Regions from separate parts of the Homo sapiens genome. Here region 2 is linked to region 1. Evidence: fine-mapped expression QTL. A gene starts in region 1. The other region holds a variant in brackets. All regions are shown on one strand. Distances are from middle to middle. Region 1 holds the start of ZNF169 (zinc finger protein 169). Region 2 overlaps ZNF169 (zinc finger protein 169).

Region 1 (15,679 bases):
TAATTAGGCCAAGTACAATGAAGCAAACCAGTTCTACCATGATTTATCTTTTAATAAAAATGGGAAACTGGAAAGAGAAAAATTATGTTTCAAAAACTACAGTACACCTGTTGTTAAATTCTAGTTTCACCTGATGTTTTTCAGTTTTTATTATTTTCTACAATTTGGATTAAATTCTAATTTTTCTGTCTACAGGTCTCCAAAATAATGTTTTCAATTTTTTCCTCCTTCTTTTCCTTTTTCCCTATTTTTCCTAATTTGAAACCACTGAAACCTAAGCTGTGCCTTCTTGAAGCCCTGTGAACTGAAGACTAGACAACTTAAACTTCAGAAGAAAACAGTGGCAACCTATTTATATGTGTTGCTGTTGCACACTACTATGTTTCAGCAGGCGCTGCCTCTATGCCCCCAAAACAGAGACTGCTACTGGGAACAAATTGAACTCTTTCACTCCAGCGCTGCGTTCGATGCTCCGTAACAACGACCCCATCTCAGCAGGAAGTAGCCAGAAAGATTATAATGCCCCATCTCCCTACAATTCTTGTGACAAATAAATATACAAGCATGATAGAAATCATGTGCAAATTGACAGTGGGGATTGTGGCAGGTCAGGTCTCACTAAGAACTGTTTCAGTACTGACTGAGTGGTTAAGTTAAATATTAAAAGTCAGTGCCCTTATACAAAGGCTAGGATGTAACAAAAGCCCATCAACAATTTTGCCTAGGCCTTTCCTGAGCCTTAAAGCATGACAAAATAACTAAGAATTTTTTTTTTTTTTTTTTTTGAGACAAAGTCTTTCTCTGTTGCCCAGGCTGGAGTGCAGTGGTGTGATCTTGTCTCACTGCAACCTCTGCCTCCCGGGTTCAGGCAATTCTACTGCCTCACCCTCCTGAGTAGCTGAGATTACAGGCATGTGCCACCATGCCCAGCCATTTTTTTGTAAATAACTAAGGAATTCTTAACAGGACCCATTTAGGATTAAACAAGTTTTATTGTGGGTCTGAAGAAACTCCCTAGGTCTCCACAAACAAGTTTACTGAGGATCTGAGGGAACTCCCCAAGCCTCCATGATTTAGCAGGAGATAAGATAAGGGTAATCACCCCAGCACCTGGACCCACTTAGATTAAATAAATTTACTGAGGCTCCAGAGGAAAGTCTTCAGGACTCAGACCTTAGTTATAGATTAAAAGAAGTTAATCACTTATGTATTTAGATGAAAGCACACTTACACATAGAGATATAGCTTGTTATATAAGCTCTGGAAAACTTTGTAATTTTTTTTTTTTTTTGAGACAGAGTCTCGCTCTGTCCCCCAGGATGGAGTGCAATGGGGCGATCTTGGCTCACTGCAACCTCTACCTCCCGGGCTCAAGTGAGTCTCCTGCCTCAGCCTCCCAAGTAAGTAGGATTACAGATGCCTGCCACAAAGCCTGGTTAATTTTTGTATTTTTAGTAGAGATAGGGTTTCACCATGTTGGCCAGGCTGGTCTCGAACTCCTGACCTCAAGTGATCCGCCTGCCTCAGCCTCCCAAAGTGCTGGGATTACAGACATGAGCCACTGCGCCTGGCAAAACTTTGTAATTTTGAGTTTTGTGATGATTCCCAGGCCTTCTCCCTGTAACCGGTTACAGAAATAAAAACTCTCTTCCTCCCCAGTTCATCTGCATCTCGTTATTGGGCCACGAAAAATAGCAGCCTGACCCTCAGTTTGGTCCGGGAACAGGATTGTAAAATGGTACAACTATTTTTGAAGACTGTATGGCAGGTTTTTTTTAATGTTAAACATACCTATGATCTGGCAATTCCCAAAGTACCTAAGAGATATTAAAAAAAAAAAAAAAAAAAACAGGGTACAGAAAGAGATATACATCAGCCTAGTAAAAGAACCCTGGAAAAAAAAGAATTGTACAAGAATTGTCACAGTAGCTTAATTACTATACCTAACAATCAAAAACAACAGAAAAAGGAGAATGGATAAACAAAAGGTAGTAGAATCATACAACAAAATACAATAAAAAGGAATAGGAATAAACTACTGATCAAGTAACAAGAAGGCAGAAACAGAATACGTACTATATGATTTCATTTACATGGAATTCTAGGAAAGGCAAAACTTTAGTGATAGGGAGCAAATCAGTTACACAACAATATACATTACTTAAAACTCATCGAATTGTACACTTAAGAGTTGTGATTTTGTAATAAATCTGATTTTTAAAAAGCCTTCAAAGACATTTTCAAGTAAAAGAAAACCAGTAAAATTTATCGTCAGCAGACCTGCCCTGTAAGAGTTTTTGTGAACTGAAGAAAAATTATGCCAAATGGAACCTTGGATTTTCTGTGGTGATTGAAGATCACCAGAAACGATAAATAACGTTCACACCCAAAAAAGACTATTTCTTTTTTCTCCTAATTTCTTTAACATATACAACTGAAGCCAGGCGCGGTGGCTCACGTCTGTAATCTCAGCACTTTGGGGGGCCAAGGTGGACAGATCACTTGAGGTCAGGAGTTCAAGACAAACCTGGTCATGGTGAAACCCCATCTCTACTAAAAATACAAAAATTAGCTGGGCATGGTAGCGTATGCCTGTAATCCCAGTGACTCGGAAGCTGAGACAGGAGAAGCGCTTGAACCCGCGAGGCAGAAGTTGCAGTGAGCCAAAATTGTGCCACTGCACTCCAGACTGGGCAACAGAGCAAGACGCCACCTCAAAAAGATAAAATAAAAGACTGTTTATAGCAAATACATTATATTTGCATTGTGATTGACAGCATATGAAGATTCAATACATATGACAATTACAGCCTGAAGAATGACGGAGTAGGTAGGTACAAGTACCTATACAATTACAAGAGCCCTCATTTTACATGAAGTTGTTCGACATTACATAGACTGTGAAGAGTTACAAATATATACTGTCATCTCTAAAGCAGGCACTAAAAATATAAAGTAAAAATGCAAAGCACTATAGCTAAGTGGCAATTAAGTTATATTGAATTAAGTTAAATTAGAATGCTAAAAAAAAAAAAAAATTCAATTGGCCCAAAGAAGGCAGAAATAGGAACAGGGGAAGAAAAAAAACAGGAGGCAAATAAAAAAACAAACAGTAAAAGAGACCTAATCTAATTGTATCAGTAATTACATGAAATACGCATTCCAATTAAAAGGCACAGACTGGCTGGGCACGGTGGCTCATGCCTGTAATCCCAGCACTTTGGGAGGCTGAGACAGGAGGATTGCTTAAGCCCACGAGTTGGAGAATAGCCTGGGCAACACAGCAAAACATCGTCTCTAAAAATAAATAAAAAAGGCACAGATTATCAGAATAGATTAAAAAAAAAAAAGCAAGACCTAACCATATGTTGTCTACAATATAAAGACTTTAAATATAAAGACATAGGTCAGTTGAAAGAAAATGAATGAGAAAAGAGATAACATGCAAAGAGTAAACATAACAAGACTGAAATGGCTATATTACTATCAGATAAACTACATTTCAAGAGAAAGTGTTACCAGAGATACAAAGGGATGTTTCATGAAAATAAAACAGTCAATTCATCAGGAAGATATAACAAAGATAAATATGTATGCACCTTATAATAACAATGCTTCAAAATACGTGAAGCAAAAATTGACAGAACTCGATGGAGAAATTGGCAATTCCATAATCCTAGTTCGAATTAACACCTTGCCACAACAGTTGATAAAATAACTAGAAAAAAAAATCCATAAGGAAATACAAGATTTGAACATAATAACTAACTTGACCAAACTGATATTAGCTCATCACTGCTCAACAGAATGCACATGCTTTTAAAGGGCCCATGGTACATTCCCCAACTCACACTACATGCTGGGTTGTGAAATAACTCCCAATAAATTTGCAAAGACTGACATTCTACATCATTTGTTCTTTGACCTGAATGGAATTAAATAAGAAGTCAGTAAGAATAGCTAGAAACCCTCCAAATACTTGGAAATTAAATAGATGATGCACAGAAAGGCACTGCATTCATCAAGTGCATGCAATTTTTTTGATGACTTTCACTGTAAAAGGGAGCAGAGAGATAGGGTAATGAGTGTAGTCAGAAATCATGACCCTTCTCAGCCAAGCGAGGTGGCTCACACCTGTAATCCCAGCACTTTGGGAGGCCGAGGCAGGCGGATCACGAGGTTAGGAGATCAAGACCATCCTGGCCAACATGGTAAAACCCCGTCTCTATTAAAAATACAAAAAAATTTAGCTGGGCATGGTGGCGCACGCCTGTAGCCCAGCTACTCAGGAGGTTGAGGCAGGAGAATCGCTTGAACTTGGGAGGCAGAGGTTGCAGTGAGCCGAGATCGCACCACTGCACTCCAGCCTGGGCGACAGAGTGAAACTCTGTCTCAAAACAAAAACAAAAACAAAAGAAAAGAAAAAAAGAAATCATGACCCTTCTCTTGTCAGAACCCGGCAGTAGATCTCGCTGACCTCAGATAAGATCCACACACAATCTTGGCACCCTAGGCTTTCCCCAGTAATAGCCTAACCCCCTTTTCCCATCTGAGTTTCTATCCTCCATGAACTTCCTTTTCCAGGCAAAAAAGACAACTGATACCCTCAAAGTCAGTCAGTTGCACAGTCCAGGTGGGTGCCAAGCACTGTGTCAGTGACCCATGAGGAGCCAGACAAGGTGCCTGTCCCCTCAAAGAACTATCTCAAAACCAGTGGGACAGTCAGACAGTTGAGATATACCATGCCAGCCGTGGAGTCCTCATATAATAAAGTGCTCTGAAACTAAAAAGGACAATGGAAGTAATTCTGCCAGAGAAAACTCAGGAAAGCTTTGTAGTGGACAAATATCTGTAGTGAGGCAACTTTTGAGACAAATACGGAAACAACACAGCCTGAATAAGTGATACTAAATAAATTCTGTTAATTTTCTTGGGTATGATCATTAATGCTGAAGTTGTTTTTCTTTAAATTCCTTATTTATGAGAGATGCATACTGAACACTGAAGTATTAGATTGGTGCAAAAGTAATTGTGGTTTTTGCCATTTACAGATGAAATGATATGACATTTGAATTTTGTTTTAAAGAACTACATCAGAGAAGTGTCATACACAAGTTTTACTTCGTTCTACATTCACAGCAGCTCCACGAGGTTAAGTACCTTGCTCAAAGTGACAGTGACAAAGGGAGAGACCTGGATTTGAACTCACTCTATGAAGGGTCACTCAAGACACCAAATCCTGGTATAGACCCCTAGTGAAAGAGACAATTTCCAAAGAGATCCACACTTGGGGTTGCAGATTTGGGGGAAAGAAGACAGGTGAGTCATTTGTAAGTGGTGAATCTGAGTGATGAATCCATGGAACTTCAAAACTACTTCTGGATATCTTTGCAATGTTTTCATACTGAGAAGTTAGAAATAAGAGTAGGTCTTGGCCGGGCGCAGTGGCTCACGCTTGTAATCCCAGCACTTTGGGAGGCCGAGGCCGGTGGATCAGGAGGTCAGGAGTTCAAGACCAGCCTGACCAACATGGTGAAACCCCGTCTCGAGCGGGGTGCGGTGGCTCACGCCTGAAATCCCAGCACTTTGGGAGGCCGAGGCGGGCGGATCACGAGGTCGGGAGATCGAGACCATCCTAGCCAACATGGTAAAAACACAAAAATTAGCCAGGTGTGGTAGCGCGTGCCTGTAGTCCCAGCTACTCGGGAGGCTGAGGCAGGAGAATACCTTGAACCCGGGAGGCGGAGTTTGCAGTGAGCCGAGATCGCGCCGCGCCACCCCACTGCACTCCAGCCTGGCGACAGAGCAAGACTCCCTCTCAAAACAAACAAACAAACAAACAAACAAAAAACAAACCCCGTCTCTACTAAAAATACAAAAAAAATTAGCCGGGCGTGGTGGCGGGCGCCTGTGGTACCAGCTACTCAGGAGCCTGAGGCAGAGAATTGCTTGAACCCGGGAGGCCGTGGTTGCAGTGAGCTGAGATCACTCCACTGCACTCCAGCCTGGGCGACAGAGTGAGACTTCATCTCAAAAAAAAAAAAAAAAAAAAAAAAAATGTAGGTTTGGATGCCTTCCACCCAACTTCTTCCCCCACCTCCAGGAATTCAAGGAGTCACTCAACAGCCCCCTGAGGCTTGAGAAAAATGTTCCTTGGCCCTATGGGCACCATTCTGCTTGTTGCAACCCATGCTCCCGGAAGGGTCCCCAAGTCCGAGGGAGCCACACAGCTGCAGAAGCCGACAATCTGGATACAAGCACGCCCCCATGCAACCCACAACCCAGGGATGTCTAACTCCAGGCAAGCCCTTCTCAACTCACCAACTTGGGTCCCCAGGCCCCAAGGCTACTGACCCGAGTCGCACGGCCCTAGCCGTCCCCCCCCCCACTATCAAGACCAAGTCTGGATGTCTACCCACAAACAATCCTCCCCCACAAACCCGGGTCCTAGTGGCCAAGCTGCACCATCACCACCACAGTGCACCAGCCATCCACAAGAGCCCTAATAACTGGACTGAGGTTGGGCACGGTGGCTCACGCCTGTAATCCCAGTACTTTGGGAGGCCGAGGCGGGGGGATTACTTGAGGTCAGGAGTTCGAGACCAGCCTTGCCAACATGGTGAAACCCCGTCTCTACTAAAACACAAAATATTAGCCGGGCGTGGTGGCGTGCGCCTGTAGTCCCAGCTACTCGGGAGCCTGAGGCAGGGGAATCACGCCACTGCACTCCAGCCTGGGCGACAAGAGCGAAACTCTGTCTCAAAAAAACAAAACAAAACAAAAACCAAAAAATTAGCCGGGCGTGGTGGCGGGTGCCTGTAATCCCAGCTGCTCGGGAGGCTGACGCGGGAGCATGGCTTGAACCCGGCGGCTGGGGTGGGGCGCGGAGATTGCAGTGAACCGAGATTGCGCCACTGCACTCCAGCCTGGGCGACAGAGAGAGACTCTGTTTCAAAAATAAATAAATAAATAAATAAAATTTAATAAATAAACAAATAAACAACCCGACTGATGCCCAAGCCGCGTGCCTCCCACTAATGGGGAAGTTTGCTCCAACCGAGGATATCATGTCCTCCAAAGGCACATTTGCTGGCCCAGAGACCTCCGAGGCGCGATGGTGGGGAGGGGATGGCGGGATACTAGTGGCAGGATGCTGTCTGGGTACCCCAGGCAGAGCCCACTCAGCGGCCCCCGAAGTACCGGGGACGCACCTGCGAAGTAGCTCGGGAAGTCGGTCCCAGGCCTGCACTGGCCCCTCCAGGTCAACATACTGGGCCCAAAGTCCCGCCAGAAGCACGCGACAACGCCAACGCCCCCTCCCCACCAGAGGACCTCCGCCAAGACCTCTCTCCGGGGTGGACCACGCACGCCCAGACCCCACAGCCGAAACTCAAAACACCAAGGAACATGTGGCCACGACATGGACTGCCCATGCCAGCTTTCCCGACCTTCCTTCCAGTGGAAGGCCCGCGAAAGCGGGGACCACCTCCGGGCTAGCTCACCAGAACTGTGAAAGGACACTCACCACGCACCAGGCGACGATGCCGGAACGCGGAAGTACGCGAGCCGGACTGCCCCTGGGCACGGAACTACACTACCCAGACTGCCACGGGGCGCGCAACTACCCTACCGTGGATGCCCTGGAGCGAGGGACTACAACATCCAGAATGCTGCGAGGGGCGGGACCGCAGCATCCAGGAGAAATTGTGAAAAATCAGAAAGTAAAATCTAACTTTCGGGTCTATGAGAAGGGTGGTCAGGTGAGCAGTAAGTCTTCTTTAACTTTTTATACGGTCCTTCTAATTTTTTTTTTTTTTAAAAAGATGTTACATGTCCTCCATCCTGCAAATTCACACCTGTGATTGTACACCCCTGAACTTTATCTACTTACTTATTTTTTGAGAAGGGGTCTTGCTCTGTCGGCCAGGCTGCAGTACAATGGTGTGATCATAGCTCACTGCAGCCTCAAACCCCTGGCCAAGCAATCCTCTCACCTCAACTTTCTGAGTAGCTGGGAATACAGGTGCATAGCACCACACCGGGCTAATTTTTTGTTTTGTTTTTTAGAATCTGGGTCTCGCGGCCGGGCGCGGTGGCTCACGCCTGTAATCCCAGCACTTTGGGAGGCTGAGGCGGGCGGATCAGAGGTCAGGAGTTCGAGAGCAGCCTGGCCAATGTGGTAAAATCCCGTCTCTACTAAAAATACAAAAATTACCTGGGCGTCGTGATGGGCGCCTGTAGTCCCGGCTACTCAGGAGGGTGAGGCAGGAGAATCACTTTGAACTCGGGAGGTGGAGGTTGCAGTGAGCCAAGATCGCACCACTGTACTCCAGCCTGGACAACAGAGTGAGATTCCTTCTCAAGGGGGAAAAAAAAAAAAAAGAATCTGGGTCTCGCTATGTTGACCAGGCTGGTCTGGAACTCCTGGCCTCAAGCAATTTTCCCACTTCAGGCTCCCAAAGTGCTGGGATTACAGGCGTGAGCCGTCCTTGTGGCCCAGGCTGCCTTTCGAGTTTATTTAGGGCCCTCTAGCCAGAGGTGGTGAGATTGGCAGTAACTCAAATTCCAACTGCTGGGATAGGTGATTCTCCTCGGGCTAAGGCTGGTGTAAATACTCCCTCCATGCGTGAGAATCAGCTGTGTTTGATCCAGTTTTGCTTTCTGGTATAACAGGGCAGCACTGAGTTCAATGCAATGTCTCATCATTGCTGTGCTTGCCGTCTCCCAAGAACATAGATTCTCTCTCCGCACCACAGAGCCACTGCTGGGGGATGGGTCAGGGGCATTGGTGATTCAAGACTGTCTTTCCTACCTTTTCAGTGCCTCTTTCAGTCATATGAAGTAAAAACCAGGTACTGCGAGTGCTTACCTGATTTTTGGTTCTTGTGAAGGTGCTTTTGTGTGTAAATAGTTGTTAACTTGTTTTTCTTACAAGGGGGAATGATCAGTGGAGCCTTCCATTCCACCATCTTGCTCCACCTCCCACCCCCATGTTTTAAATGACAGTGTGTATGAATGTACTTCTAAAAATGCCAAAAATACTGGGGTTTTTTTTCCTGTTATAAAGAAGAAGATTCTGAAGTTTTTTTTTTAATTCCAATTGATTACAAGAAGATAAGGAAAAACTAAACTTGAGGACATTTAACACTATAGCAATTAAAGTTATCTTACTAATGCAAAGATTGTTTATTAGATGTAACAGAATAATACGCTCAAAAACATACCAAAGTCTTTGCAAAATGAGTTATACTCTTTTTCTAAGAATTTGATAAAAAGTGGTATTTTTAAGTTACTTCCTATTTGCTTCTTCTCAAAATGAAGTAACAGGAACCAGATTTAGCCCTTCACCTTAATCAACATTTAAAAGGACAAAATATATGAAACATTTGAAGACATTTGACATCAGACAATGAAGAGCAGTGGAAATCATGGAGGTGAGCCTTTGAACTTCCCGCAGATGGAGAGAATTTCCAAGTCATAGCACAGAGAAGGGAAACTCAAGTGAAGCATGGAGTTCAACTTGAGGAGATGGAACTGGGAATCTGAGGAGGCATATGCATCTAGAGTTCACAGGGCAGAGTACAGAAAGGGAGAGAGAGCGCCAGAGATGTGCAGAGAGTCCTCTTCCTCAGGTATTAGTTAAGTGCTGACCAGCATGTACATGTGAGGAAACTCCTCAAAATTAGGGGTAAAAAACACTAGAAAGGGTTAGAGGGCAATACTGTGAGCTCAAAAAGAACAGGAATAATGTCTGTTCCCACGAGACAGAGTGGAAATGCTAATTCACATGGCATCAAGTCATGTACTCGGAAGGGTTTTGCCTCAATAGTGGGGCAAAAATTAACCTAAATGCTTCTCTGGTCTCACCTAACAGAGCTTAAATCCAAGCCTAGAAAGGACTGAATTGTTCCCAAGTAACTTAACTGCATCCCAGATAAAAAGCTCAAGAATATTTAAAAGAATACAAAACTATCCAGCATCCAATAAGGCAAAATTGGGGACTTTTTTTTTTTTTTTCTATTCTTACACCTGCTTCCATCCTAAGACCCTGGATTTTAGAATTCCAATTAAAAAAATGCTAGCATGCAAAGAATATATTCCCCAAAATGAAGAGAAAAGTCAACCAATAGAAATTACACAGAAGATATAATTAAAAGGTAAGGACACAAGCTGGGCACAGTGGCATGCGTCTGTAGTTGCAGCTACTTAGGAGGCTGCTTAAAACGATTGGGACAATTGCTTAAACCTAGGGGTTCCAGACCATCCTGGGCAAGACCCTAGCAAGACCCTGTCTAAAAAAAAAAAACCAAGATAAGAGCACTAAAACATTTATTGTAACTACAACTTCAAGAAGCTACAGGAAACACTTCGAGACCCTGTCTAAAAAAAAAAAACCAAGATAAGAGCACTAAAACATTTATTATAACTACAACTTCAAGAAGCTACAGGAAACACTTCAAGAAGGGTTTTTCTATACATCATGCCATACTGGATGGTATGATGATTAATTTTACATGTCAACTTGGCTACACTATAATGACCAATTATTTGGTAGTAGTCTAGATACTACCATGTAGATATCTTACATGTGTAATTAACATTTTCAGTCAGTTGACTTTAAGGGAGATTACACTCCATAATGTGGGAGGGTTTCATCTAATCAGTTGAAGGCCTTAACGGCAAAATCTGAGGTTTCCAGAGAAGGAATTCTGCCTTAAGACTCTAACAGAAATCCTCCCTGATGTTTTAGCCTGCTGTCCTGCCCCGTGAATTTTAGACTCAAGATTGCAATATCAACTCTTACCTGAATTTTCAGCCTGCCTGCCCTACAGATTTCAGACTTGCCAGCCCCTGCAATTGCATGAGCCAATCCCTTAAATAAATCAGTCACTCTCTCCCACTTGATAAACACTTGATAAACAGATCAATAGATAGAATATATATATGTATATATACACACATATATATATATATATATACAGATACATATATCCTATTAGTTTTTTCCTATCCTATTACTTTTTTCTTTATATATCCTATATATACATATATCCTACTCACTCTCTCTCTCTCTCTCTCTCTATATATATATATCCTATTAGTTCTATTTCTCTGGAAGACTTTGACTGACACAGTTGGTATTGCAGCAGACTGGACATTTCAGGGGAAAAAGAAGTTAGCCTGAAGACATGGAAGGGGAAACTATTCAAAGTAAAACAGGGATAAAAAATACTCAAATGAAAATTATGTGATGAAAATTATAAGCCAACAGATTAAAGCATCTCAGTGAAGCCTATGCAGAGGAAACATGAAAATAACAACACCAAGGTACAACTGCTTAAAAGCAGCTATAAAGAAACTTGTTTTAAAAAGCCAGAAAGAGGAGACATATTATGTACAAATGAACAAAGATAACAGCAGATTTCATTCAATAAAAAATGCGGCCGGGCACGGTGGCTCACGCCTGTAATCCCAGCACTTTGGGAGGCCAAGGCAGGTGGATCATAAGGTCAGGAGTACAAGACCAGCCTGACCAACATGGTGAAACACTGTCTCTACCAAAAATACAAAAATTAGCCGGGAGTGGTGGTGCGCACCTGTAATCCCAGATACTCAGGAGGCTGAGGCAGGAGAATCGTTTGAACCCAGGAGGCGGAGGTTGCTGTGAGCCAAGATCGCACCATTGCACTCCAGCCTGGGTGACAGAGTGAGACTCTATCTCAAAAAAAAAAAAAAAAAAAAAGCAAGGTAAAAGGAGCAACATCTTTAAAGCACTGAAAAAAAAAGCCAATGTATCAACTTAGAATTTTTTACCCAGTGAAAAAACAGGATGTCCTTCAATCAAAAGGAAAAGGATACTAGATGGAAATAAGGATCTACACAGAGAAATGAAAAATGCTAGAAAGAATATGTAAAAGCTGTGTTTCTATTTAAATAGCTTTAATACATAATAAACTGTTTAAAGTAATAAGAAGGTATTGTGATGTTTATGATATATATAGAAGTGAAATGCGTAACTATGATAACAGAAAGGCCAGGGCTGAAATGGAAGCACATTGTTGTAAGGTTCTACTTTGTGTAAATAGTATAATACCACCAAAGGTAAATTGTGGTAAATTAAAGATGTGTAATATAAACTCAAAGATATAACTGAAATAACACAACCAACATATACCCAATGAACCAACAAAGGACAAATGAAATCATTAAAAATACTCAATTCAAAAGAGGGCAGGGAAAAGAATAATAATGAGCAGATGATGGGTGGGCGCGGTGGCTCACACCTGTAATCCCAGCACTTTGGAAGGCTGAGGTGGGGAAATCACCTGAGATCAGGAGTTCGAGACCAGCCTGGCCAACATGGTGAAACCCAGTCTCTACTAAAAATACAAAAATTAGCCAGGCGTGGTGGCACACGCCTGTAATCCCAGCTACTTGGGAGGCTGAGGCAGGAGAATCACTTGAACCTAGGAGGCGGAGTTTGCAGTGAGCACCACTGCACTCTAGTCTGGGTGACAGAGCAAGACTCTGTCTCAAAAACAAGCAAACAAAACAAATAAACAAAGGGAAGTTGCACATTTCCAGTTCCCTCACAGTGGTCAATCTTTGGATCCACGTTTCAGCCAACCAACCAAACTGTTAGAGCCCTTTCTAAGTCCCTGAGCTGAAACATTAAGTGTAGAATCTCTGCTTAGTGGGCTCATATTAATGAATTCAACCTGATCCAACTTTACGTTCCTTCCCCCGTTACCCCACACCCTTAATATTGATTCCTAAACATGTTCCCTGGTTTCTGCTTGTTTAAACTAGAAAATCAAGCAGTTCTTTTGGAATATAGTATACCTTTTCATGGGTCACACTTTGTACCTCTTCTTCAGGAACCTGCTGGGACTTCAGTCTAGGTATAGGTTTAGAAATGAAAAGGGGTGGTGCGTATGGGTCTTGAGAAAAACCAGCAGTGTCTTGCAAGACAACTGCCTCAGGGTAGGCCATTACCATTTCCTCAGGCAATGCAAAGTTAATCCCTTCAGGCAGAGGTGGAAAGATGAATATCACTGCAGGTTTGGAGGCCAGCTCCTCTGGGGTTGGGGAGACCTCTTCCACTGGCAAAAAGATTCATCAGAGTTTGGAGGCTCAATGTCTCTAGCCTTATTAAAGTCATCCAAGTTTACAGAACCCCATTCTTTTCCAATGTCCTCACTTTAACAGTAGACACCTATGCGGCTTGGAGTTCAACTTGTGTTGTAATTCAGCCAATCATAGAATGAGGTTCTGCATTTGATTTTTCAGCAATTTCAGCCCTGTGCCTATAGGAGATAAGGCTCTCCTTCAGGGTATGCTTAGAAACTCTTGGATCATTTATGCAGCACTTGACCTGGGAATTCAAATCCCTGAGTTTGTCTTTTTCTTTCACCACTTTGTCCAGTGACATTAGCATTAGCCAACTACATCATTATATTCTTTAGTTTTCCAAAAATGTTTGAAAGTATCATATACAAAGTCACTTATCTCCTTGCTTCTTATAAGTGGCTGATTGGGAGTATCCAAAGCAGATATTTTGTGTATCTATATGAACATGCCATGGATTATCTAGTTTATACCATGGATTATCAGTGCTCTCTTTTTACTACTGGAAATAGAATTATTAACATCTTTAAATCAATTCATACTAGACAGCCAATTCCAGAACCAATTCAGAAAACTCATCTTAAAAATTCTGTTCCACTAGAACCACTCTCAGCACTAAAATCTGTATTAGGGTTCTCCAGAGAAACAGAGCCAATTTTATATATACATGTATAAAACAGATAAAAGAAAATTTATTTTAGGAATTGGTTCACATGGTTATGAAAGCTCAAAGGTCCCATGACCTACTATGGGACCTACAGCTTGTAGCTGGAGAACCAGGAAAGCCAGTGGTATAATTCAGTCTGAGTCTGAAGGCTGATAATATAAGTACTGGCCTGAACCTGATGGCCCAAGAATCAGGGGCATCAATATCTGAGGGCAGGAGAAGACAGACATCCAAGCTCAGAGAGAAAGAATTCACCTTTCCTATCACGAGGTCAAGAGATCGATACCATCCTGGCCAACATGGTGAAACCCCATCTCTACTAAAATACAAAAATTAGCTGGGGATGGTGGCAGGCACCTATACTCCCAGCTACTCGGGAGGCTGAGGCAGGAGAATCGCTTGAACCCAGGAGGCAGAGCTTGCAGTGAGCCAAGATTGCGCTACTGCACTCCAGCCTGGGTGACAGAGCGAGACTCCATCTCAAAAAAAAAAAAAAAAAAAAGAATTCACCCTTCTTCTACTTTTATGTTTTATTTGGGCCCTGAGTGGATTGGATGCGGCCCACATTGGTGAGGGTGATTTTTTTCACTCAGTCTACTGATTCAAATGCTAATCTTTTTCAGAAACACCCTCACAGACACAGCCATTAATAATGTCTTACCCGCTATCTGGGTATCCCCTAGCCTACTTAAGTTGACAAATAAAATTAACCATCACAATAAAGTTACCTTCTCCTCCTAGTTTGTCGTTGAATATTTTCATCTTGAAGATATAAATCTTCAAGTGGAACAGAACCACTTAAATGTTGTCAAATGCTCTTTCTGAATATGAAGATAATCCTGTGGGGTTTGTTCTTTGTTCCACCAATATGATGCATTATATTGATTTTTGGATGTTAAATTAATCTTGAATTTCTGGGATAAATTCCACTTGAATGTGGTATTTAGCCCTTTTTTATGTTGTTGGATTTAGTTTGCTAGTTTTTAATTGAGGGATTTGCACCTATTTCATAAGATATATTGACTTGTAGTTTTTTCGTGATGGCTTTTTCTGATTTTAATATCGAAGCAATATTTGCTTCAAAGACTGAGTTGGAAAGAGTTTTCTCCTCTTTTGTTTCTTAGAAGAATTTGCGAAGAATTGCTATGGATTCATCTTTTTTTTTTTTTTGAGACAGATTCTTACTGTCACCCAGGCTGGAGTAGAGTGGCACAATCTCGGCTCACTGCAACTTCTGCCTTCTGGGTTCAAGTGATTCTCCTGCCTCAGCCTCCCAAGTAGCTGGGATTGCAGGCTCCTGCCACCGTGCCCGGCTAATTTTTGTATTTTTAGTAGAGACGAGGTTTCACCATCTTGGTCAGGCTGGTCTTGAACTCCTTACCTCGTGATCCACCTGCCTCAGCCTCCCAAAGTGCTGGGATTACAGGCGTGAGCCACCATGCCAGGCCTGAATTCATCTTTAAGTGTGTGGTAGAATTTACCAGTGAAGGCATCTGGGACTGAACTTATCTTTGTAGGTAGTGTTTTCATTATGAATTCTATCTATTTTCTTGTTATACGTTGATATGGTTTGGATGTTTGTCCCCTTAGATCTCAAGTTGAAATGTGATTCCAAATGTTGGAGGTGGGGGCTAGTGGGAGGTGAGTAGATCACGGGGGCAGATCCCTCAAGAATGGTTTAGGCCAGGGGTGGTGGCTCATGCCTATAATACCAGCACTTTGGGAGGCCGAGGCAGGAGAATTGCTCTAGGCCAGGAGTTCAAGACCAGGCTGGACAACATAGTGGGACCCCATCTCTTCAAAAAAGTTTAAATTTAGCCAGATGTAGTGGTATGTGCCTATGGTCCCAGCTACTTGGGAGGCTGAGGTGGGAGGATTGCTTGA
Region 2 (15,679 bases), 39 kb before region 1:
CGCCCGCCACCACGCCCAGCTAATTTTTTGTATTAGAGATGGGGTTTCACCGTGTTAGCCAGGATGGTCTCGATCTCCTGACCTCGTAATCCACCTGCCTCGGCCTCCCAAAGTGCTGGGATTACAGGCATGAGCCACTGCGCCTGGCCAGGCATAGATTTCTTATTTCCATAAAACACTAATATTCGTTTCTGGTGTGGTTTTCTATTAACCCAATTAAATCATTCTTTTCCCCTTCTTTCATCACCATTTTTATCTAAAAGAGAGGTTTCAGATGTAACTAGCAGAGATATTATTTTTTAAAAAGTTCCATACACACACACACACACACACACACTTTCTTTTTTTTTTTTTGAGATGGAGTCTTGCTCTTGTCGCCCAGGCTGGAATCAACGGCGCAATCTTGACTCACTGCAACCTCCGCCTCCCGGATTCAGGTGATTCTCCTGCCTCAGCCTCCCGAGTAGCTGAGATTACAGGTGCCTGCTACCACGCCCCGGCTAACTTTTGTATTTTTAGTAGAGACGGGGTTTTGCCATGTTTGCCAGGCTGGTCACGAACTCCCCACCTCAAGGGATCCACTCACCTTGGCCTCCCAAAGTGCTGGGATTACAGGTGTGAGCCACTGCACCCAGCCTGTTTTTTATTTATATATCATTTATCAGGTCCATTTTGGGTGAATGGCCATAGAAACTTCCATTATGGAAAAACACTTTCAAGTACAAGGTCAATATATATGCTGGAATGGTTATTACTTCTATTTATATTCTCAGTAGAAATTTTTAAACTGCTGGCATGAAATGACCCCATACCACACATATGCGTGTGCACGTTCACGTGCACACACACACACACACGCTTCCCTTGTGACTTCAGCTCTGGCCACTGGATAACTCGCTGAGGCAAAATGGCTTCAGTGAAAATGTGTTGATAAGGGCTGTCCCCAGTGGTCTCAGGGCATCCCCACCAAAGCTAACCCAAAGACTGTCTCCAGCTGAGATGCTGGGGTCAGTGACCTCCATCTGTCATTCTTCTTTCATCTATCCTCCCAAGGCAAATTCTTCCAAACTAAAATCTCTTTTCATTCTGGTGAAAAACCCCTCTGAGCCAGCAGTGGCTCCAAGCACTGGGGAGACTGACCATGCAGTAAACATTCGGTGCTGAAGGAACAGGGCCAGGGCCATTCTTGGTGTAGGCATTTGTCAGGATCTGGGGCATTTGGGCTCTGGGGATCAGGGAACAGGAGGGACTATAACTAAGGGGGCAGTGTCTTGGGCTGGATAGAAGGGTGGGTGGCTTCAGAGCCTTAGCTCCTGATTGGAGTTTTAAGGAAGGTTGTGGCTGAAGGGCTGGATCACTGGCACGTAGGCATAGCTAACATGACAGGGATGTGAATAAATGCCCTTCAATCTGGCATCAGGGAAGGTGAGCATGTGGCCAGTGGCTCTCATCACAGACAATGGAAGACTTAGGAAGAGGTGAGGTTGAAGACCGTAATATCCCTGTCCCATAGGACAGTAGCCTAGAATAAATACGCAGAGTAATTCCTCCATGTCTCCGAAGAGGTTGAATGCCTTGGGGTTCTCCTCAAAGTATCAGTGAATGAGGTACATAGCCAGGTATGCAGCTTTGTAGAGAAGCAGTTTATTAAAACAAAAGACCATAAAATACAAAGGACCACTGTGCAGAAAGTAAAGCATAAACCAACTATCTCATGATCAATGAAGGAAAGCAACTCTTTTTCCTCCATTCCATATCAGGAAAGTGGAACATCTGTTATTGATTTCTGCCATCTTCACACTTATGGAGAAAGGAAAGGAATTCAAGAGAGCACTCTTATGGCAGGCGCTCACGGCTAGATACGAATTTTGGAAGTCCAGAAGGCAGAGTGTTATGGACTAAATTGTGTCCCTCCCCACCCAAATTCATATGTTGAATCCCTAATCCCCAGTGTGACTGTTTTTGCATACAGGACATTTAAAGTTGTAATTAAGGTTAAAACAAGGTCTTTAGGGTGTTGCCCTAATCCAGTATCACTGGTGTCCTTTTAATGAGAGACACCAGGAAAGTGTGTGTACAAAGAATAAGCTATGAGACACCACAGAGGGAAGGCAGCCATCTGCAGGCCAAGGAGAGAGGCCTTAGTAGAAACCAAACCTGCCAACACCTCATTCTAGGACTTCCAGTTTCCTGAACTGTGAGAAGATAAATATTCTATTGCTTAAGGCACCCAGTCTGGTGTTTTCTTATGTCAGCCCTAGCAAATTAATACAGATTTTGGTACTGTGATTGGGATGCTTTGTAACCTAAAATGTGGAAGTGACTTGGAACTGGGTACTCGGTAGAAAGAAGCTACAAGAGTTCTGAGGCACATGTTAGGAAAAGCCTGGATGACCTTTAAAACACTGTTGGTAGGAATGTAGATGTTAAAAGGTTCTGGGCTGGGTGTGGTGGCTCACACTTTGAGAGGGCAAAGCAGGAGGATCATTTGAGGCCAGGTGTATGAGACCAGCCTAAGCAACATAGCAAAAACCCGTATCTACAAAATGTTTGGGGTTTTTTTTTGTTTTGTTTTGTTTTGTTTTTAATTTTAAGGTGATTGTGGTTAAGTCTCAGACAGAAATGAGGAATGGGTAATGGGAAACTGGAATCCTTGCAAAGGACTTGCCCAAATTGCGTTCTAGTGTTTTGTGGAGTACAGAAATTGTGAGTGAGGCAGTGCAGAATATTCAGGTGATATTTCTACACAAAGTGATGCAAGTGGAGTCTGTTTTCTCCTTGCTGCTTATAGTAAAATATTAGAGGAGAAAGATAAATTGAAGGAACTGTTAAGCAAAAAAGAACCAGTACTTAAAGATTTGGAAAATTCTCAGCCTGTCCGCATTGCAAAAAATGAGAAAGTATGTTCTTGAAAGAACACTAGGGTGTGGCTGGACAACCATGTGATAAAGAGATTAGTATAGGTCTGAATGGAACCAATTAACCATCTCACCAGAAATGCTGCCAGCTTGAACTGAATAGAGAAAGAGACAGGACAAAAATGAAGGCAGGCTGTTAGACTTCTGGGATTCTACGGGAAGGTACAATAGAGCTATCCAGTTGCAAACGCACGTTAATCTTCAAGAAAAGGGAAGAATGTGATTCTCAAAGGTTCTAATGGGCCCAGAGAGTACAGGTCTAGAGGGCAAGTGTGTCTCCTCCTCAATTTCAGTGGGCCAGGAGCCGCTGCCAAGGGCCAAGGGAGCGACACTGCAGCTCCCGTGAGCCTAAAAAGCAGGGCTGCCAATCCAGTTGGCCCAGAAGGCAGAGCACTGAGCCAAAGGGGATTATTCTCGAGACTTAAAATCTAATGGAAGTTGCCTTGCCAGGTTTGAGACTTGCTTGGGATCCATCATTCTTCATTTCTTTCTCATGTCTTTCCTTTGGAATGGGGAAGTCCAGCCTCTGCTTGTCCCACCATTGTAGAATATTGTGGAAGCAGATATCTGTCTGGTTTCACAGGATCACACCTGGAGAATTTTGCCTAAGGATGAATTGTACCTAAAGTCTCATTCACACTTGATTTAGATGATATTTAAATGAGATTTTGGATCTAGAGGTGAAGTTGAAATGGGTAAAGAATTTTGGGACTGTTGGGATCATGTGAATGTATTTTGAATGTCTGAGGGACCTGAACTTTGGTAGTGGAGTGTTATAGACTAAATTGGGTTTCCCAGAAATTCATATGTTGAAGTCCTAACTGTGTAGTGTGACTGTATCTAGAGATAAGGCCTTTAGGAAGGTTATTAAGGTTAAACGAGGCCATGTGGCTGTGGCTCTATCCAAAATGACTGGTGTCCCTAGAAGAGGAGGAAGCCACACCAGGAAAGCATACACACAGAAAAAAGCCCACGTGAGGACGTGGCCAGAAAGCAGCCATCCGCAAGCCAAACAGAGAGGCTTAAGCAGCAGCCAAACCTACCAATACGTTCATCTGGGACTTCCAGCCTCCATAAATATGAAAATATATTTCCGTTGTCAAAATCACCCAGCCTGGGGTACTTTGTTATGGAACCCCTAGCAAGCCAAGACAAATTGTGAATATAGAAAGTAAACCAAAAATCAACTATCTCATGATCGATGAAAGAAAGCAACATTTTTTTTTTTCCATTCCATTTCAGGAAACTGAAGCATTTACTAGTGATTTCTGCCAGCTTCACACTCACGGGGAAAGGAAAGGTCAGAAGACCTCTTGGGGTAGGAGCTGATGACCAGACTTGGTCCTCCTGTGTCTATGCAAGTGAGACTTCTGGCTAAAGCCACGCCCACACTCCCTGCAGACATACGGCTTCTCCCCAGAATGGGTCCGCTGATGTCGGATGAGGGCAGACTTAAAGCCAAAGCCGCGCCCACATTCATCGCAAATGCAGGGCTTCTCTCCTGAGTGTGTCCTTTGGTCAGAGATAAGGTGTGACTTCTGGCCAAGTCCTTGTCCACACACCCTGTCTACGTAAAGCTCCTCCTCTGAGTGTGTCCTCTGGTGTCGGGTGAGGAGCGACTTAAAGCCAAATGCACGCCCACACTTGGGGCACAGATAAGGCTTCTCCCCTGTGTGTGTCCTCTGGTGTCTGATGAGGGTGACCTTCTGACCAAAGCCACGCCCACAATCAGGGCACAGGTAGGGCTTCTCCCCTGTGTGTGTCCTCTGGTGTCCAATGAGGGTGACCTTCTGGCTAAAACCCCGCCCACACTGGGGGCACAGGTAAGGCTTCTCCCCTGTGTGTGTCCTCTGGTGCCTGATGAGAGTGACCTTTTGGCGAAAGCTGTGCCCACACTCAGCACAGACATAAGGCTTCTCTCCTGAGTGTGTGACCTGGTGACTAAGGAGGAGTGACTGCTGCCTGAAGCTACGCCCACACTCAAGGCACAGGAAGGGCCTCTCCCCTGTGTGTGAGCTCTGGTGCTGGAGGAGTGATGCCTTCTGGCAAAAGCCTCTCCCACACTCAGGACACACGAAGGGCTTCTCCTCCAAGTGCGTCCTCTGGTGTAGAAGGAGGGCTATCTTCTGGCGAAAGCCTCGCCCACACTCCTGACATACAAAGGGCCTCTCCCCGGAGTGAATCCTCTTGTGATTAGTGAGAGAGGATGTATACCTGAAGTGTCGCCCACATTCCCTGCACACATACGGCTTCTCCCCCGAGTGCTTCCTCTGGTGTATGGAGAGGGAGGCCTTCTGGCTAAACCGACGCCCACACTCAGGACACAGGTATGGCTTCTCCCCGGTGTGTGTCCTCTGGTGCTTGATAAGGTCTGATCTCTGGCAAAAGCCTCTCCCGCATTCAGGGCACACATGATGCTTCTGGTGGCTGAACAGGCTTGACTTTTTGCTAAGTCCCAGTCTATAGTTTCCACGTATGACTGCTCCAGATTCTGAAGTGTCTGCTCCCTTCAACATTGTGTCTGACCCCCCAAGACTCATCCTTTGGGCCAGGCGAAGGTCTGTTCCTCCTTCTCTGTTCCCTTCTACCCATTCTACTGGGTCACCTTGATGTGGGCTGAAGAATGTCCTAGAAATTCTGCTTGGCCTCTTTCTTAATGAGCTGTCGGGGCCTTCTGTCTCTCCACTTTCTCCTTTTTCACTAGAGCATCTTGGAGCTTCTAGTTGGAAGTCACCTCCTGCAGATGAGCTTGGGAAGATCTGTGTGGGATGGCCACTTAGCGCATATTGTCTGAGGAGCTGCGAGCTAGAAAAGGCCACCAGGTGGGGAAAACTTGGCTGGAATTCTGTTCTAGGCTCTGCTAGAGAGAAAGTCTTGGTCAGAATCACCACAGGTGACCATGGATTGTAATACCTGCCCAGCAGTTTTCTTCAGATGTTCACAACAAAGACTTATCTTCCAACCCACAAGGGCACATTACATGCTCTATTGCAGCACAGAAAACCCACACTACAAACTAGTCCTATCAGCCAAACTAAAAGGTTCAAAAAAGCATCACAGGCAGCTTCAGCTCTATAAATTGCTGCAAGTAGAGTTACACATTTATCTTCCTTTCTTGGGCGCCGCTCCCTTGCTTTTGCTCCAGCTCAAGCCTATTAAACCTTGCCTGAGAAACATTTGTTCGGCCTGCTGTTTATGCAAGAGCCAAGAACTTGGTGTCTGAGCTGCAGTTAAGAAACAGACTGATTATGATCTTGAAGGTGCTATAAATAAGATCTTAGCATCTGAAGGGGAGCCATGCTTTGGGCTTCCTTGACTGTGGTGACTCAAGTAAGGGGCACCCACGAATCAGATAAGCTGTAGCAAGAGATACTGGCTCCTGTGTGGAATAGGCTTTAGGCCAGGGAGCTTCCATATCAGCCTGATGTGAGTTGTCTCCTGAACTGTATGGACACCCTTAAGTCCTCTTGAAGAAGAGGAATCCCTGATGCTGCCCTCC[G/T]GGCAAATGAAGGTGCTGTCCTCTAGCCTCTGGGAAGACTGCAGCCAAGTATATTCCCCGAATAGCATTGCACAACACTACGTACACTGTTTTGCTCAATAATCCAGGATTTTTAAAAAAATCTGGTGAATTAAGGAGAAGCTCAGCGTTTGAAAGTTAATAATAGATGACTTCTCATTAGCATAAAGATGTTTCAGGGATTATACATATTTCGGCTTAAGCATATTCTTATCCATGCACAAAAACTGTTAAAACTATACAAATTGACTTTTTCAAAAAATTTTGTTTCTAGGTTTAAATAGGCTGCCAATTGGAGATAACACTAATTCCCATGATGGTATAAATTAAAGGCTCTGGAAATTGGCAGTGCTTTCAGCTTCCGTAAGTTGATACCGTAACTCCTAGGTAATTATTGACTAAGTTCTTTTTTTTTTTTTTTTTTTTGAGACAGAGTCTCGCTCTGTTGCCCAGGCTGGAGTGCAGTGGCGTGATCTTGGCTGACTGCAACCTCTGGTTCAAGCAATTCTCCTGTCTCAGCCTCCTGAGCAGCTGGGATTACAGGCGTGCACCACCATGCCCGGCTAAGTTTTGTATTTTTAGTAGAGATCGGGTTTCACCATGTTGGCCAGGCTGGTCTTGAACTCCTGACCTTAGGTGAGAGACGGGGTTTCACCATGTTGGCCAGGCTGGTCTCGAACTCCTGACCTTAGGTGATCCGCCTGCCTCGGCCTCCCAAAGTGCTGGGGTTATAGGCATGAGCCACTGCGCTCGGCAGGACTAAGTTCTTATGAGTCATTATGGGACAGCCCTCAATAGAGAAGTCTGCTTTCATTATCTCTGAAATTGTTTGCTGTAGTGAATAAGCAAAGCATTTGGTAAGAGAAAAATAAGGCATTTTCTTATTCATGGCTAGTTTATCTTTTTTATCTTACTTTTGTTTAAAGACTCCTGCTTTTTAACTCAGATTAGAAATTGAGTCTCCTTGAACAAATTTTTTTTTTTTTTTTTAAAGGAGTCTCGCACTGTCGCCTAGGCTGGAGTACAGTGGCACTATCTCAGCCCACTGCAACCTCCACCTCCTGGGTTCAAGCAATTCTCCCACCTCAGCCTCCTGAGTAGCTGGGATTACAGGCGCACCTACTACGCCTGGCTAATTTTTTGTATTTTTAGTAGTGACAGGGTCTCACCATGTTGGCCAGGCTGGTCTCAAACTCCTGACCTCAAGTGATTCGCCTGCCTTGGCCTCCCAAAGTGCTGGGATTACAGGCGTGAGCCACCGCGCCCAGCCCCTGGAACAAATTTTTAAGAGCATTGATCAGAAATGTACCTGGCAAGTAGCAACCCATAGCAAGAAACTGAATCAGGGTTTCAAGTGCCCTATCAGAACAGAAGTGAACAATTTAATGGAATTAAACTACTTAACAGAAGACCCTTGGTTCAAGGCAGACGATTATAAATACAATACTGATTTATATGTTATTCTATTTGTTAACTATTTTTAATCACAAAATACGTATTTCTTATTTTTGACCATACTATTCCTAAGAAAAACTCTTTGTATCATTGATTAGAGTCAGTAAGATCATATCTGCAAGAGGGAACTTCAGCAGCTTTAGGGATTGCCATTCACATTCCATCTGGAATACAGAGAAGGTCCTTCATATTAAAATATTCCAGTGGAAAAAGATGTGAGTTTTGCAAGATTACAGCATACAAAATCACTATACATAAATCCATTTTATTTCTACATACCATCAATAAACAACTGAAAATTGACACTTAAAAATAGCATCAAAATATGAAATACTTAGGGGCAAATCTGACAAGAGATATGTAAGGCCTGTATACCAGAAATGACAAAACAATGCCGACAAAAATGAAAGAAGTCTTATGTAAATGGAGAGCTATACTGTGTTCACGTACTGTAAGACACAGTATTATTTATGTGTAAGTTCTCCACAAATTGATACAGATTCAACTCGATCCCAATCAAAATCTCAGCAGGCATTTTTGTTAAAAACTGACAAGCTGATTCTAAAATTCATATGAAAAAACAAAGAATAACGAAAAGAACTTGCAAAAAAAAGCAAAGATGGAGGATTTTTTATTTTATTTTATTTTATTTTGAGATGGAGTCTCGCACTGTTGCCTGGGCTGGAGTGCAATAGTGTGATCTCGGCTCACTGCAACCTCCGCCTCCCGAGTTCACGCGATCCTCCTGCCTCAGCCTCCCGAGTAGCTGTGATTACAGGTGCGCACCACCACACTCGGCTAGTTTTTTTTGTATTTTTAGTAGAGATGGGGTTTCACTATGTTGGCCAGACTAGTCTCGAACTCCTGACCTTGTGATCCGCCTGCCTAAGCTTCCCAAAGAAGATGGAGGATTTACAGTGAGTTCAAGACCTAATAAAGCTACAGTAATCAAAACTGTGGTATTGGCATAGAGACACTAACAGAGGAGTAGAAAAAACATAGAGTCCAGGTATAGACCTATCACATATGGTCAACTGATCTTCCACAAAGATACATAGGAAATTCAGTTAAAAAAGGGTAGTGTTTTCAATAAATGGTGCTGGAAAAATTGGATATTTGTATGCCCTTCCTCCCCTAAAAAAGTACATAAATTCAGATCTTTTATCAAGTATATTTACTCAAAATAGGCTTATAGACCTAAATGTAATTAAAAATTGTAAAATTACTAAAAGAAAAAAATGAGAATCTTTTTGACCTTACTTTAGACTAAAATTTCTTAAATACACTACCAAAACTGCAATTCATAAGAGAAAAGATTGAAAACTGGACTTCATCCAAATTAAAATTTCTCTTTGAAAGGCACTATTAAGATTATAGAAAGTAAACCACAGAAAAAATGTTTGTAAATCATATATCTGATAATGGACTTCTACATAGAATATGTGAAGAACTCTCAAACTCAATAATACAAAAATAAGAAACCACATTTTTAAATGGGCAAAAGATGTGAAAACGTACTTCACTAAAGAAGATATAAGATAGCAAATAAGCACATGAAGATACTCAACATCATCAGTCATTAAGAAAATGTTAAAACCACGGTAAGATGCCACTCACTACACAGCTATAAGAATGTCTGAAATTAATAACCAAGCCAAGTTTTGACAAATATGGAACACCTGGAGCTCTCATACACTGCTGTGGGAATGTGAAATGGTGCGGCCACTTTGGAAAGCAGTTTGTGAGTTTCTTCAAAAGTTGAATATATATTGTATCCATCATCATACAACCCAGCCATTCCAGTCCCAGGTATTTATTCAACAGAAATGAAAGCATTATATTCACACAAAAACTTGCATGCTTAAAACAGCTTTATTTATATTTGTCAAAAATGAAAACCCAAATACCTTTTAATAGGTCAGTATTAAAATGTGACCTAGACATATAAAGGAATACTCAGCAATAAAAATTAATAAACTATTGATACACACATTATAGATAAAATTCAAAATACTTATGCTGAGTGAAGAATCCAGTTGTATCCTGTATAATCCAGTTATACAAATTCTAGAAAATGCAGACAAATCTATAATTATAGAAAGCTGATCAGTGGTTGCCCAGGTACAGGGGAGGACAGGAAGGAGTGGGAGGTAGGATTACAGTAAGGCGAAAGAAAATTTTCAAGGATGACAGACATGCTTGTTACTTTAGCTGTGGCAGTGCTTTCATGCATGTATACATATGCCAAAACTAACCAAATTTCACACCTATATAAGTGTAGTTTATTATACCTTAAAAAACATATCTTATAATATACCTTAATTGCTGTATCTTAATAACATTTTTATCATTATTTTACTTTATTTTTTTTTGAGACAGAGTCTCACTCTGTAGCCCAGGCTGGAGTACAGTGGTGTGATCTCAGTTCATTGCAACCTTCGCCTCCCAGGTTCAAGCGATTCTCACTCCTCAGCCATCCGAGTAGCTGGTATTTCAGGCATGCACCACCAGGCTCGGCTAATTTGTGTATTTTTAGTAGAGACGGGATTTTGCCATGTTGGCCAGGCTGGTCTCAAACTCCTGGCCTCAAGTGATCCACCCACCTCAGCCTCTCAAAGTCTGGGATTACAGGCGTGAGCCACTGTGCCCACCCCATTTTTATATAACGAAATGCTTTTAAAAAGACAAAAGCACTCAGTTGCTACATAGTGTAATACCAGCTATATAGTTACATTTAAAAGCAAAAAATAAAACAAAAATAAAATGCCAGGAAACCATGAAAATAAACAAGTAAGAAGATAAAGCAGGCAAAAATTTATTTCTATCTCCCAGCATTCATATAAAATTAATTCCAGTTAAAGACCTAAATGTTTCCATAATTTATATGGGATTTCTACAAATCAATAACAAAAAGAATAGACCCATTGAAAAGTAGGCAAACACCTTGAATGGTCAAATCACAGATGGGGAAACAGGAAGGGCCAAGCAACATATGAAAAGATGCTCATGCTCACTAGTAAGCAACTTAAAAACCCCTCTGAGATTTCACTTCCAGCTGAATAGATGGATAAAACATGAGGTCTCACAATCCCAAATGTTGGTGAGGATGTACAACAAGAATTCTCATAGACTCCTGCTGGGAGCATAAGCTGCCATGCCCACTTCAGAACACAAGTTGGCATAACTTATATAAGTTGAGGCTATGCATGCCTGTGAACCAGCTACTACACACCTAAGTATATATCTTTTTTTTTTTCTTTGTGAGATGGAGACTCGCTCTGTCACCTAGGCTGGAGTGCAGTGGCGCAATCTCAGTTCACTGCAACGTCCGCCTCCCGGATTCAAGCAATTCTCCTGCCTCAGCCTCCCAAGTAGCTAAGATTATAGGCATGCGCCACCACACCCAGCTAATTTTTCTATTTTTAGTAGAGACGGGGTTTCACCATGTTGGCCAGAATGGTCTCGAATTCCTGACCTCGTGATCCACCTGCCTCGGCCTCCCAGAGTGCTGGGATTACAGGTGTGAGCCACTGCACCTGGCCGGTATATATTTTAAGAGAAACTCTTGGACATGTTCCCAAGGAGGCATACAAGAATACAGAGCAAGATTATTTCATAGCCAAAAAGTTGGAAACAACTTAATAACATTATGTGCAGAGAAGTTTACAGACATGCAAAACAACACCCTATATGAGTGAAGAACCCATCAGATGGAATAAAAGGATAAAGACAGTCATGGAATGCTAACTCAGAAAACAGAGGCGGAGGAACGGGACACAATCAGGAAAAGTATGGGGCTATTACCTGGTTTTATAACATGCTATCTCTTAGGGTACAGGGCTGCCCCAACCCTACTCATTGTACAGTTTTTCACACCTTGCTGTAATCTTAAATAATCTATGATAAAAGAAACAAAGTTATGAGAATTTACAGGATAGAAATGATGCACAAAAAAGCTACCAGGTTAAGAATAGAAACTGGCTGGGCGTGGTGGCTCACGCCTGTAATCCCAACACTTTGGGAAGCAAAGGCAGATGGATTGCCTGAGCTCAGGAATTCAAGACCAGCCTGACCAATAAGGTGAAACCCCATCTCTACTAAAAATACAAAAAAATTTAGCTGGGCATGATGGCGGGCACCTGTAGTCCCAGCTACTCAGGAGGGTGAGGCAGGAGAAATCACTTGAACACAGGAGGCAGAGGTTGCAGTGAGCCGAGATCATGCCATTGCACTCCAGCCTGGGTGACAGAACGAGACTCTGTCTCAAAAAAAATAAAAATAAAAATAAAAAACCAGGGGCAGGGACTTAGTCTCAAAGGACAGGTACTGTTTTGAAGATCATGCCAACCACATGAGCCCAAGAATGGAGAAATCCTGAATGTGCTCGAGAAAGGAAGCCAAGTGAGGAGTGAGGCTCCCTGATGGAGGAAGGAGATGGAATGCCAGGGGTGCCCTGTCCTGGGGGGAGGCACACAGTGTGGAAGGCAGGCAGTGCCATGCAGCCTTTACCAGTGGCCTAGGAGGCCTGAAGAAGAACTTCCTCCTAGCACCTCAAAGATAGCCCCTCCTTCCTTACCTGCTGAGCTCCTCACTGCCCTGCACCCTCGCTTGCCCAGGGCTTCCCACTCACCTGGACAAAGGTCCAGAAGATGTTCGTTCTCCTCTCTCCAAGGTTCGTCGCCTTGCTCCAGCTGTTCGATGAGTTTTGGTTTGGAAAATGCAATTCCTACTCACAGGAAAAAAAAACCAAGGTGATCTTGAGTTAGTGGCTTAAGAGGCTATCTCAGAACTCAGAGCCAACCCAGGAATGCAATAAACCCAGAAGGTGGTAGGGAGGTGCAGGGGTGGAGTAAACTATGTCTGAATGCTAAGAAAGGATGCATACAGGGAGGGGATCCTAGACCTAAAGGCAGTATGTTGATTCTACCCTGTGCTTGAGTCAATAAAAATATTCCTCCTTTTGAAGGAGGATAACCTTAGAGGAGGAGCCCAGCCAGGGTAAACAGGCCTGAAAAATGCAGTGTCAGACACACCACACGCTCACAGCATGTGCACGCGCACACACACACACACACACACACACACACACACAACTGCACTGTGAAAGCCAGGCATTCTCTGGGGGAATAGGGGAAAAAACTGTTTTTCTGAGTCAGAAGCATGGCAGCTTGCTATGTAAGAGCTTAAAATACCCACAAGCAGAATCTGAAACCTTAAACAGGCCAGCCTTACCCAGGGAGACCAGATGGCTGTAGTTCTCCAGCATCACCTCCCTGTACAGGGTCCTCTGAGCAGAACTCAATAGCTTCCACTCCTTCTGGGTGAAGGCCACAGCCACATCCCGGAAGGCCATCAATGCCTGTAACACAAACACATCCCTGCTCACTCAACAGCCAGCCATGCCCACTAACCAACTTAAGCCACTAACCACAGTCAAGGCAGAAAGAAGCAGTCCTAGAGCACCCAAGTGAGATTTACAGATCCTGCTTTTAACCTGAAACCTGGTTCCATATATTCAAGACTATTAATCCCCTCCATACACTGATGCTGGTTCTATTTCTGGGCTCTCTGTTGTGCTGATCAAACACACAAGTTTGATTATCGCAGCTACATAGCAGGACTGGAAATCAGGTAAACCGATTCCTCTCACTTTATTCTTCATGTTGAAAGTTGATTTAGCTATTCTAAAATAGCCTGTGCCTGTGCCTTTCTATGCAAATTTTAGAATAATCTTGTCTATATCTCTAAAAGCCTTTGCTGAAATTTTGATAGGATTCCCATTAAACCTGTATATCAATTTGGTGAGAACTTACATCTTTACTATATTGGATCTTCAAATCCATAAACACAGTATGTCTCTCCATTTGTTTAGACCGTCTATGATTTCTTTCATCAACATTTTGTGATTTTCTGCAAACAGACCCTACACATTTTGTTAGATTTACACCTAAGAATTTCTTCAGCTTTCTTCTTTTTTTTAAGTAATTTTAATGGTACTGTATTTTAACTTCAGTGACCATATGTTCATGCTATGACATATGATACAATTGTTTGTCTGTTTTTTCTTCTATACGGCAAGCTGACTAAACTTTACTTAGCTTTAAAAGCTTTTTTTCCCTTCGTTCCTTGAGATTTTCTACATAGACAATCATGTCCTCTGCAAATAGGAACAGTTTCATTTCTTTGTTAATGATCTGTATGTCTCTTATTTCCTTTTCTTGCCTTATTGCTGTGGTTAGAACTTCCAGCGCTATGTTGAATGAGAGTGGTAAGAACAGATATAACGTTGGTTTGTTCCCAATCATGGAAGGAAAGCATTTAATCTTTCACCATTAAGAATACTGTTCTGGCCAGATGCAATGGCTCACATCTGTAATCCCAGCACTTTGAGAGGACAAGGCGGGTGGATCATGAGGTCAGGAGTTCAAGACCAGCCTGGCCAAGATGGTAAAACACCATCTCTACCAAAAATACAAAAATTAGCTGGGCATGGTGGCAAGCATCTGTAGTCCCAGCTACTTGGGAGGCTGAGGCAGAGAATTGCTTGAACCTGGGAGGCGGAGGTTGCAGTGAGCCGAGATTACACCACTACACTCCAGCCTGGGCAACAGAGCAAAACTCCATCTCAAAAAAAAAAAAAAAAAAAAAAAAAGAATACTGTTCCATAGACCAGAATCAGAGTAGATGTTTAAAAAATTTTTTTACTTAAAAATAAATTAAATAAAAAATACTGTTCCACAAACAGGATAACTACTACCAGAAAAAAGAAAAACATATTTTTGTGGGGTATGGAGAAATTGGAAACTTTCACATTGCCGATGGGAATGTAAAACAATACAGTTTCTATGAAAAACAGTTTGGCAGTTCCTCAAAAAATTAAACATATAATTAGCATCTGATCCAACAATTCCACTCCTAGGAATATACCCCCAAAAATTGAAAGTAGGGACTCAAACAGATACTTGTACACCAATGTTCATAGCAGTACTGTTCACAACAACTGGAAACAACTTGAATGTTTATCAACTGAATGAATAAAGAAAATGTGAATGAATAAAAATGAATGAATAAAGAAAATGTGGTATACACATACAATGGAGTATTTTTCAGCCTTAAAAAGGAGGGACCTTTTCTGATGGACGTTTTTAAGAGACAAGCCTTGAAAATATGCCAAGTGACATAAGCCAGTCACAAAAGGACAAATATATGATTCCACTTATGTAAGGTACCTAGAATAGGCAAATTCATACAGACAAAGTAAAACAGAGGTTACCAGGGGCTGGGGGGAGTGGGGATGGGGAGTTATTGTTTAATGGATACACAATTTCTATTTGGGATAATGAAAAAATTCTGGAAAGTGGTGATGGTTGTATAACAATGTGAATGTACTTAATGCCACTGAATTGTAAAAATATATAGTCAATTTTGTGTTATGTATTACCAAAATTTTAAAAAGAATGTTAGCTGCAGATTTTTAGAAGATTCTCCTCTGTTCCTATTGTACTGAGAGTTTGTTTTGTTTACAAATGGTTGTTGAATTCTGCTAAAGTCTTATTGCATTAACTGATAAAATCATGATTTTTCTTCTTTAGCCTATCGATATGACCAACATTACATGACTTAAATTAGAAAAAATATTTTTAACTAAAGAAATTTTTGCTTTATGTTGGTTTATGGCCCAGGATATGTCTAACTTCATCTGTGTTTCTAAAGGCACATGAAAAGAATATGCATTCTGTTCTTATTGGTTGGAATGTCTGCCATTTAAGTTTTATTTGTTTGTTCTCTG

Evidence for each region.
Region 2: its variant is fine-mapped to the expression of ZNF169 in prefrontal cortex (GTEx, PIP above 0.99).

Annotation. Positions count from the first base shown.
Region 1 is chr9:94,251,192-94,266,870 of GRCh38, reverse strand. It overlaps ZNF169 (zinc finger protein 169), which reads right to left and starts at 7,573. Exons shown (of 5, transcript NM_194320.4): 1 at 7,526-7,573. It overlaps LINC02603 (long intergenic non-protein coding RNA 2603), which reads left to right and starts at 7,560. Exons shown (of 3, transcript NR_160773.1): 1 at 7,560-7,760. RefSeq lists enhancers at 6,116-6,761, 7,091-7,220, 6,762-7,408, 7,251-7,570, 7,409-8,054.
Region 2 is chr9:94,289,911-94,305,589 of GRCh38, reverse strand. It overlaps ZNF169 (zinc finger protein 169), which reads right to left. Exons shown (of 5, transcript NM_194320.4): 3 at 13,123-13,249; 4 at 12,521-12,616; 5 at 3,761-5,775. The coding sequence ends at 4,220. Among named protein-coding and RNA genes, the nearest start is that of NUTM2F, 31 kb to the left of the region's middle. The variant G/T (reference allele first, on the strand shown) is at 6,418.